Homo sapiens: one gene and its partners. The protein of the gene in region 1 purifies or fractionates together with the protein of each later gene. This does not show direct contact. Each region holds a gene or a part of one and is shown on either strand. Other genes may lie near its edges. The genes, in order: ADCK1, CFAP20 and SFXN1.

Region 1 (3,434 bases):
CCATCCTGGGACTGGGTCTGGTAGAGGGGCATTTGTGAATGTTCTGGAGACACTTCCTCCATTTGCTCACTTTAGACAACCCAGATAGATCATAAAGTTAGCTACTCCAGGTCAGCCTGGTCTCAGGGATCCACAGGCTCAGTCTTTCTGAGCCCTGCTCTCATTGAGGATTAGGGGAACCTCCAACATTGTATGAAGGAGAATGTTTTCCCCAACTAACCGTGGCTTAAACATAAGGAATTTGTTCTCTCTCCTACAAGAAGCCTGGAGATGGGTGGGTTAGCTCAGTGGATCAACAAATTCAGGTCCCTGGGCTAACTTGTGATTCTCTGGGCTTTCCACCACAATTTCAAGATGACTGTGTGGTTCCAAGCTTTACATCTTCATTCAGTGTGGCTAGAGGCAGGAATAAGGCGCTATGTCTCCTTATATCATTTAAGAGCAAGAAAACCTTTTTTAGAAGTGCCGGCCTCCCTCCAACAGCTTCCTCTTGCCTCATTGGCTGACGCAGGTCACGTGTCCATGCCTAAACCAGTCATGTGGCAAGGGGCTGAGAGCTCAGAGCTAGCCCTGGCTGAACTCAATCCAGATTCCCTGCTGGGGCCAGGGAGGGGCTGCACCTCCCTATGGAGCATGACCCCAAGGGATCAAGTGAACAAAATTTTTTTTTTTTTTGAGACAGAGTCTCGCTCTGTTGTCTAGGCTGGAGTGCAGTGGTGTGATCTCAGCTCACCAAAACCTCTGCCTCCTGGGTTCAAGTGGTTCTCCTGCCTCAGCCTCCTGAGTAGCTGGGACTACAGGTGTATGCCACCATGCCTGGCTAACTTTTGTATTTTTAGTAGAGATGGGGTTTCGCTATGTTGGCCAGGCTGGTCTCGAACTCCTGACCTCGTGATCTGCCCATCTTGGCCTCCCAAAGTGCTAGGATTACAGGTGTGAGCCTGGGTTCTTTTAATAAAGGAGATTGGGGTGAAGACTTAGGTAGATACCCAACAGGGTCTACTGCAGACACCCACCATCAGGATGTGTCTTAGCTGGAGACTGCTGCTCTGAGAGCTGTCCCCCGGTAGTAGCCTGGGTGACTGAAGTTGCTGAGAGGCTGTTGCCAGGCCAGTCCGACCGTGCTGAGAGGGGGGTCCCTGTGGTGAGCAGGGGACTTGTAGCTGTGGCCATAGGTGCCTCTTAAGGTCTGGCTTTGTGTTGAGATGTTCCAGTCTGATAGTTCCTGCCTGAGAGGCAGTTCAAGACATTTCAAGTTTTGCAGTGACTCTGTTCTCAGCAGCGCACACGTGCTTCTGAAAGGACTGAGAGCCCTGCTGCTTCGGAGAGGAGTGGGGTGGTAAAGACTTTCAGCAGCACCCCGGGTCTCCTCATTATGACTTGGCACTGATTGCTTCCTCAGACCTTATCTCTGGTGACCTTCCCAGTGCTGCTGGGAGGCGGGCACAGAGGGTATTGGCATTCCCAATTTTTGGGTGAGGACACTAAGTTGAAAGAGATTAGAGGACTTACCCAGAGTCGTCGAGTCCTGTGGTGAGGTGAGGAGGTGTGGTATTGCCAGATGGTGAGGGCACAGGCTCGGGAGCTGGACTGCCTGGGTTCACGTCCCATCTCACCACTTACTAGCACTTAACTTCTCAATGCCTGTGTTTCCTCATCTTAAATGGGGATAATACACCGATAGGGTTGTTGTGAGGATTAAATCAATTAATACGTGCCAACATTGTCAAAGTGCCTGGCTTCTTTAGTAAATGCTCAATATATGGTGCTTATCGTCACCATCATCATCATATCTATGGAGACTGAAAAGGGGTCAGAACCACACTTATATTTAGGATTTTGCTGGGGGCATTTATCTGCTTAGAGCTGTGAAGAGTGTAGGGACAGGGATCGTGGGGAGGCCAGACCCCAAACTTAAAGACCAGGTAGGTCAAGGGCTGTGGCGATGACCAGCATGAAGGGCTAATCCTGGATCCTAGGCCAGGGCATCAGACCTTGGGCCACAGGTGGGATGAGACTGGCTCTCATGCGAGGACAGTGGTAAGCAATGGAGCGTGAGCAGCAGCATGGTCTGGCAGGGTGCAGGCTATGGGGCAGGACTTTGGAGTTGGGTTGAAGTCAGGTCAGCCTGAGCTAGGCTTGGAGGGGTAGGAGACCAGACTCAGCTGGTACTGGCTTCTGGGGGTCCTTCCAGACCTGATCTAAAATTGCGGCCAGTGAAAAAGCCATGGAGAATAACCTGGTCTCTCGCAATGTATACTGTGTCACATCCAACGCTTTCCTAGAAGTTTGGCTGAGATATCCCCTTCCGGGTTTGTCAGGCTATACAGTGCCTTGTGCTAGACTTCTCTATGGGGAGTGCTCCTAGCAGTGCCAAGACAGCGGTGCCTGAAGCTCCCTCCTGGGGCTTCTTTGCAGCCCTCTGGTCACAGCCTGCCAGACCCCTGCCACCCCTGGCCCCACTGCCCATACCAACCATCTGTTTCTGTTGCCCCATTGCTGCTTCAGGACTTAGAGATTCGCAACAACGCGGCCAACTACCTCCCCCAGATCAGCCATCTCCTCAACCACGTGCCGCGCCAGATGCTGCTCATCTTGAAGACCAACGACCTGCTGCGTGGCATTGAGGCCGCCCTGGGCACCCGCGCCAGCGCCAGCTCCTTTCTCAACATGTCACGTTGCTGCATCAGAGCGCTAGCTGAGTGAGTGTGGGCTCCTCCCTCTCCTCCCCTCCTAGCCCCCTGGCCTGCCCCAGGGGTCCTGCTTTTGCTGCCACCTTTCCCCACCAGTCTACAGGGCCCTGCCTGAGCTTCCCAATCTCCAGATATCCCTGCAGGCAAAGTTAAAGTTTGAAATGTTTTCTGAGAGTCTCAGCCCCATCTAAGTATCCCAAGTTTGAAGTCAGGAAGCCGTGATGTGTATCTCTCCACTAATTGGTCCTGGGACTTGTCAGCCAGGCCAGTGCTCTTTGTCCTATAGATGAGACTGTGACTCAGGTTCTCTTGATCTCAGATCTTTTTATTTATTTATTTATTTAATTTATTTATTTTCTTTTTTGAGACACAGTCTGACTCTGTCCCCCAGGCTGGAGTACAGTGGTGTGATCTCGGCTCACTGCAACCTTCATCTCCCGAATTCAAGCGATTCTCCTGCCTCAGTCTCCCGAGTAGCTAGAATTACAGGCACCCACCACCATATCCAGCTAATTTTTATATTTTTAGTAGAGACGGGGTTTCACCGTGTTGGCCAGGCTGGTCTTGAACTCCTGACCTCGAGTGATCCACCTTCCTTGGCCTCCCAAAGTCCTGGGATTACAGGCATGAGCCACCATGTCCAACCTCAGATCTTTTTAGATGCCTCAGCACCTTTGGGCATTAATGAGGAAGAGAAGTGTGCTTCCTCAGGGAGCTAGTTCCAGAGGAAAGAGGGTTTCA
Region 2 (3,376 bases), on another chromosome or scaffold:
TATATGTGGTGCTGTAGAGAGAGGAAATACTAATAAACACACTCCTGGACTCTCTTCCTTTGTGGTATGCACAACAATAACACACGGTCCAAGAGGATACACTGGAAAGCAGATCTAAAAGATTCAGACACGCCACCCAGTGAATCCCTCAGCCCTAAGTCAGCGGCTGCTTTAACAAACGCTGGACCCAGAAACAAAAGCTTAACACAGGACTAGACAGCAGCAATAAAATATCTGAAAAACAAAGCCAGACAGTGGATCTTAGAAGCTCCTCCAGTGAGAGAAGACCTCAATTCTGGTCCAGGGGAGCCATCGAATGACAGAAAACCAAAACTGAGACCTCTATGGCACTGAAAACCACACTGTCCACCCACTGGATGAGCTGTACAACACTGCCCACTCCCCACCCCAACACACACTTTGGTTAATAATATAGCTAATACTGACATCGTGCTTACTATGTGCTAAGCAAGGCTTTACGTGTTTTATATATATTCATTTATTTACTCCTCGCAATAACCCTATAAGGAAAATGTACTATTATTCTGCCCATTGTACAGATGAGTATGCTAAGGTCTGGGGGATTCAGTAACTTGCCCATGGTAAGCTCTAAGTGGCAGAGATAGACTCACATCCGGCACTCTGACTCCGCAGTCTGTGCTATTAACCTCTATGACGTACTGCCTCCCTAGTATATGATGTCTCTGGGAGAACAGAGGTGGCAACCTACCTTACATTTGTCCCTTCAATCTCTAGCACCAGGGACTGGATGTCATTATCAGTGATTCTTTTGATGTGGCCATTCCGTACCTACAAGAAAGAAAATTCGATTAGTACTGAAATATCTGACAAGGCTGAATAGGACTATTTAAAGAAAACCACGGTAGCCCAAGAGGCGTACAAAGAAATTTGTGACACAGCACACTGAAGCTTATATGTAAGTAAGCCAAGCTATTACCTCTAGACAGGGTCACACCAACCACCAAGGGAATCCCAGGTAACTTGGCAATCCCTAAATCTGGGGAAACTTCTCCCCAAATACATCAACTCAATTTAGATTCAGCTAATATCTACTGAATGCCTACTATGCACCAGGAATATCACACACATCCCCTTCTCACTTAAGCCTCACACAATAAAAACAACAAGGCAGGTGATACTGTTTTCATTTTACAAATGTGGACATTGGCACCCCGGAACTGCAAATGCCAAACCCTAAGTAGGAGACTAAGGATTCAGCAGCCTTTCCACTGCCTCATACTGCCTCGTAGATTTCTTTCTTTCTCTTTCTTTTTTCTTTTTTCTGAGACGGAGTCTCGCCCTGTCGCCCAGGCTGGAGTGCAATGGCGCGATCTTGGCTCACCGCAACCTCTGCCTTCCAGGTTCAAGCGATTCTCTTGCCTCAGCCTCCTGAGTAGCTGGGATTATAAGCGTGCAGCACCATGCCCAGCCGATTTTTTTTTTTGTATCTTTAGTAGAGACGGGGTTTCACCATGTTGGCCAGGCTGGTCTCGAACTCCTGACCTTGTGATCCACCTGCCTTGGCCTCCCAAAGTGCTGGAATTACAGGCATGGGCCACTGCGCCCGTCCTGCCTTGTATATTTCTTTGGCCAGAAAAGCCAAAGAAAAGCTGAGTGTTACTGAGGAGGGCAGCAACAAAAAGTGAAAGCATTCCTCCCCTGGAGTTATCCTGCTTCATGCTTCCCTATCTGCTTTTGCCTAATTTTCTACTTTTTAAAGCAGGAATTCAATTCCCATCTGTGCCACACACAGATGCCTTCTTTAGCATTTTCAGCCCACACTGACCTCTCTTTTCTCTGATTTGTTTTTCTGGCTCATGTTGTCTAGACGACATAATTTAGCACCTCATCCTACATTGTTTTGTATTGTTTGCTGCATATGTAGGAGGTAGATGATGGGGAGGAATCAATATTCAATACAGATTCCTCCTCTCAAAATATTTAGGAAAGAACAATTATCTTCAAGCATTAAACTTTTAAGCAACTAATATGGACAGAACAGAGATATGCAAAGGCACTTTCAAAACAGGGCTGGGGCCAGGCACAGTGGCTCATGCCTGTAATCCCAGCACTTTGGGAGGCCAAGGCAGGAGGATAGCTTGAGCTCAGGAGTTCAAGATCAGCTTGGGCAACATAGTAAGACATTGTTTCTACAAAAAATTAGCCAGGTGTGGTGGCGTGCACCTGTAGTGTGCCTATAGTCCCAACTACTTGGGAGGCTAAGGTGGGAGGATCACTTGAGCTCAGGAGGTCCAGGCTGCAGTGAGCTGTGTTTGTGCCACTGCACTCCAGCCTAGAGGAGTAGGTGACAGAGCAAGACCCTATCTCAAAAAAAACAAAACAAAAAACGAAAAAAAAAAAACAAAACCAAAAAAACATGGCTGGGGTCAGGCATGGTGGTTCACGCTTGTAATCCCAGCACTTTGGGAGGCCGAGGCGAGAGAACTGCTTGAGCTCAGGAGTTCAAGACCAGTCTGGACAACATGATGAAACCCCATCTCTACAAAAAATTAGCCAGGTGTAGTGGCACGTGCCTATCGTCTCAGTTCCTCAGGAGGCTGAGGTGGGAGGATAACCTGAGCCTGGGAGGTCGAGGCTGCAGTGAGCCGTGATTGTGCCACTGTACTCAAGCCTGGGCGACAGAGTGAGATCCTGTCTCAAAAATGAACAAACAAACAAAAAAACAAGGCTGGACTATTAGGGCTGAATGGAATAACATATGAAAAAGATCAACTAGGTTTAGAACAGGAGACATCAGAAAGACAAACATACGGTCTTTCTTTGTGGAAAGGGCTGTGTTAGGCTGCCATAATCAATGACTCAATCACACTGACTAAAGCTCCTCTTGTTCACTCATCAGCCTGCTGATTACGATTTGGCTATTAGACTTGCATATGGGGATAAATCAGTGTTGGGTCTGGTAGTTTTATTTTTCAACATAAATTATTAATAATATGTTTCTGTTTTTAGACATTAGTCTCTGTGAGCTCTGTCACTGTGAGTCTGATCCACTCATGGTCTGCCTGGTGTTCTAAAGGTGACATCTGATGTCACTGCCCACCTTTTCCACAACTGCAACCAAGTCTTGTCTCCTTAAAAAAGAATAAGCTCAAGCAAGAGCCAAGACCAGTTATGAAGCATCATTTCTATCTTCGACAATGCTTAGCACAGTGCTAGCCATAAACTAAGCGTTCAAATATTTGCTGACTTCTGGAATCTGTCACCCTAAGAGCTGGCACATATGAATAGGTTCAAGGAGGGTTTTAAAAATTCCTGGATAACACATCCCCCGTGGACTATTATAGGAAGCCAGAGATCTGGGGCATATCACAAAGCCCACAGGGCCGCCAGCATG
Region 3 (3,500 bases), on another chromosome or scaffold:
GATCACCTGAGGTCAGGAGTTTGACACCAGCCTGGCCAACATGGTGAAATCCCATCTCTACTAAAAAATATAAAACTTAGCTGGGCATGGTGGCAGGCGCCTATAATCCCAGCTGCTCGGAAAGCTGAGGCAGAATTGCTTGAACCCGGGAGGCAGAGATTGCAGTGAGTCAAGACAGTGCCACTGCACTCCAGCCTGGGCAACAAGAATGAAACTAAGTCTCAAAAGAAAAGAAAAGAAAATGTGAAACATTCTTAACTTTCTCTTTTGGCTGGCCTGCATCAGTTGAGAGTTTGTGAATACCAGCCTTGATTTCTAGACTTTCTATTGTGTTTCCACTTATCTACATATTCTGATGCCAATACCCACCATTTTAACTTGACAGTCAATTTTAATCTTGGGTAGAGCAACCGTCCCACACGCTATTCTTCTTTTTCTTTTTCTAAGATGCCTTATACTAATTTATTCTCCCAGATAAACCTTAGAATTATTATTATTATTATTATTATTATTATTATTATTGTGATGGAGTTGCACTCTTGTCGCCCAGGCTGGAATGCAATGGCGTGATCTTGGCTCACTGCAACCTCCGCCTCCTGGGTTCAAGCAATGCTCCTGCCCCGGCCTCCTGGGTAACTGGGATTACAGGCACCCGCCACCACATTCAGCTTTTTTTTTTGTATTTTTAGTAGAGATGGGGTTTCACCATGTTGGCCAGGCTGGTCTTGAACTCTTAACCTCAGGTGATGCCCCTGCCTCGGCCTCCCAAAGTGCTGGGATAACAGGCATGAGTCACTGCACCCGGTCAGAATTATTTTATCAGTTTTACAGGTGACCACAGTTGTAATTTGACTGAAATCGTATTAATCTGGAGACAACTGACACCTCTACAATCTCCAGCCTTTCTCCCCAGGCCTACTGCACATTTCTCCATTTACTCAAACTTAACATGATTCCAAATGTTTTCATCATTGACGCAAATTTCTGGGTGCGTTTCTTCCCAAGTACTTTACATTTTTAAAAAATTGTTCTGGCCGGGTGCGATGGCTCATGCCTGTAATCCCAGTACTTTGGGAGACCGAGGCAGGTGGATCATGAAGTCAGGAGATCAAGACCATTCTGGCTAACACTGTGAAATCTCGTCTCTACTAAAAATACAAAAAATCAGCTGGGCGTGGTGGCGGGCGCCTGTAGCCCCAGCTACTCAGGAGGCTGAGGCAGGAGAATGGCGTGAACCCGGGAGGCAGAGCTTGCAGTGAACCAAGATCGCGCCACTGCACTCCAGCCTGGGCGACAGAGCAAGACTCCGCACCCTCCCCGCCCAAAAAAAATTGTTCTTATGAAGTGAATAAAAAACAATGTCTAATTGCTTGTTGCTTTTATACAGGAAACTACCATTGTGTCTATTATAAATAGCCCCCTCATTGTATTTTAATTTGTTCTATGGTTGTTCAGTTGGTTATGGTCTCTTCTTTTTTTTTTTTTTGAGATGGAGTCTTGCTCTGTTGCCAGGCTGGAGTGCAGTTATGCAATGTTGGCTCACTGCAACCTTCACCTCCCAGGTTCAAGCGATTCTCCTGCCTCAGCCTCTGGAGTACCTGCGACTACAGGTGTGCGCCACCACGCCCGGTTAGTTTTTGTGTTTGTAGTAGAGACGGGGTTTCACCATGTTGGCCAGGCTGGTGTTGAACTCCTGACCTCAGGTGATTTGCCTGCCCTGGCCTCCCAAAGTGCTGGGATTACAGGCGTGAGCCACCTCGCCTGGCCGAGTATTCTCATACATATTACATACATTATGGAAAAAAAACAAAGGGCTCATGTCCAAGTTTGGGAAAAATGATTAAGCAGCTTTATTTTCACTCCTGGACTTTTTGGAAACTTCGAACAGTTAATAGAATGTGACATTCTCAAGAGTGGAATGCAAACTTTCTCAAATTTGACTACCAAAATCCTCTCCCTTTTTCTCTCTGCCTCTCTTGATCCCTCTCTCCCTTCCCCCACCCCCCTCTTTTCTTTCTTTAAGTATTCCATAGGATCCCTTTTTTTTTTTTTTTTTGAGATGGAGTGTCACTCTTGTTTCCCAAGCTAGAGTGCAATGGCGCAATCTCGGCTACTGCAACCTCTACCTCCCAGGTTCAAGCAATTCTCCTGCCTCAGCCTCCCGAGTAGCTGGGATTACAGGTGCGTGCCACCATGCCTGGATAATTTTTTGTATTTTTAGTAGAAACGGGGTTTCACCATGTTAGCCAGGCTGGTCTCGAATTCCTGACCTCTGGTGATCCACTTGCCTTGGCCTCTCAAAGTGTTGGGATTATGGGCGTGAGCCACCACGCCCGGCCAGGGTTCCTTTCCTTTAGAGGTCTTTTTGGGAAGTTCAGCTCTAGTGTTCCATTATTTCGTGCATTGCTCACTACTGATGTGGGATATGCATTCTTCATAATTAAAGAAGTACCACCCATTATGCCTAGCTGATTAATTATTTTATGGGAAATAGATATATAATTTTACCTTCTTTTGGGCATCTATCAAGATGTGGCTTTTTTGCTCTGACATATTGATGTGATAAATTACACTAATAAATGTCCTAAATATAAATCACCTTTTCATTCTCGGAATAAATTCTACCAGTTCATGTTTTAACACAAGGTTGGATGCTATGTGTTGGTGTTTTACTTTGGATTTTTGCATTATCAATTTGTAAGACAGGCCACTGTTTCTTTTTGTATTTTTTAAATCATTTATTGTATCAGGGTTGCAATGAATCGGGAAGCATTTCCTTTTTTTCTATGATCTTGTAACATTTTAAAATTAAATCAGCTTTATTGAGGTATAATTTAAATACCATAAAAGTCATCCACTTTAAGTGTCCAATTTGCTAAGTTTTGAAAAAATATACTCAGTGGTGTAACCGCCCCGGAATTGTGGTACAGGATATTTCCATGTCTCCAACAGTTCCCTTGGGCCCCTCTGGAGTTATTTCCTCACTTCCTGCCAACCAATGGATCTGTTTTCTAACACTATATTACCTTTTCAAGAATTTCACACAAATGGAATCATACAGTGAGTAGATACATATTTTGTGTATTTTGTGTCTGACCTCTTTGACTTTGCATAACACTTTTGAGAAGCACCCTGTTGTTTATATGAGTTGGTTAATCTGTTCGATGGATGGATGTACCAGTTATTTATTTATTTATTATTATTATTATTATTATTTTGAGATAGAGTTTTGTTCTTGTTGCCCAGGCTGGAGTGCAATGGCGTGATCTTGGCTCATCGCAACCTTTGCTTCCCGGGTTCAAGCGATTCTCCTGCCTCAGCCTCCCAGGTAGCTGGGATTACAGGCATGTGCCACCATGCCCGGCTAATTTTTTATATTTTTAGTAGAGACATGGTTTCTCCATGTTGTCCAGGCTGGTCTTGAACTCCTGAGCTCAGGCAATCCTCCCGCCTCCGCCTCCCCAAGTGCTGGGATTACAGGCATGAGCCACTGTGCCCGG

The links.
Region 2: the proteins of ADCK1 (region 1) and CFAP20 purify together in Homo sapiens (affinity purification with mass spectrometry, with the first as the bait; one large-scale study listed by BioGRID). This does not show direct contact.
Region 3: the proteins of ADCK1 (region 1) and SFXN1 purify together in Homo sapiens (co-immunoprecipitation; one large-scale study listed by IntAct). This does not show direct contact.

The regions. Positions count from the first base shown.
Region 1 is NC_000014.9:77,929,010-77,932,443, forward strand, and holds part of ADCK1 (aarF domain-containing protein kinase 1), read left to right. Parts: intron 1-2,508; coding exon 2,509-2,702; intron 2,703-3,434. UniProt on the Homo sapiens protein: Appears to be essential for maintaining mitochondrial cristae formation and mitochondrial function by acting via YME1L1 in a kinase-independent manner to regulate essential mitochondrial structural proteins OPA1 and IMMT.
Region 2 is NC_000016.10:58,116,142-58,119,517, forward strand, and holds part of CFAP20 (cilia- and flagella-associated protein 20), read right to left. Parts: intron 811-3,376; coding exon 731-810; intron 12-730; coding exon 1-11. UniProt on the Homo sapiens protein: Cilium- and flagellum-specific protein that plays a role in axonemal structure organization and motility. Microtubule inner protein (MIP) part of the dynein-decorated doublet microtubules (DMTs) in cilia axoneme, which is required for motile cilia beating.
Region 3 is NC_000005.10:175,502,560-175,506,059, reverse strand, and holds part of SFXN1 (sideroflexin-1), read right to left. Parts: intron 1-3,500. UniProt on the Homo sapiens protein: Amino acid transporter importing serine, an essential substrate of the mitochondrial branch of the one-carbon pathway, into mitochondria.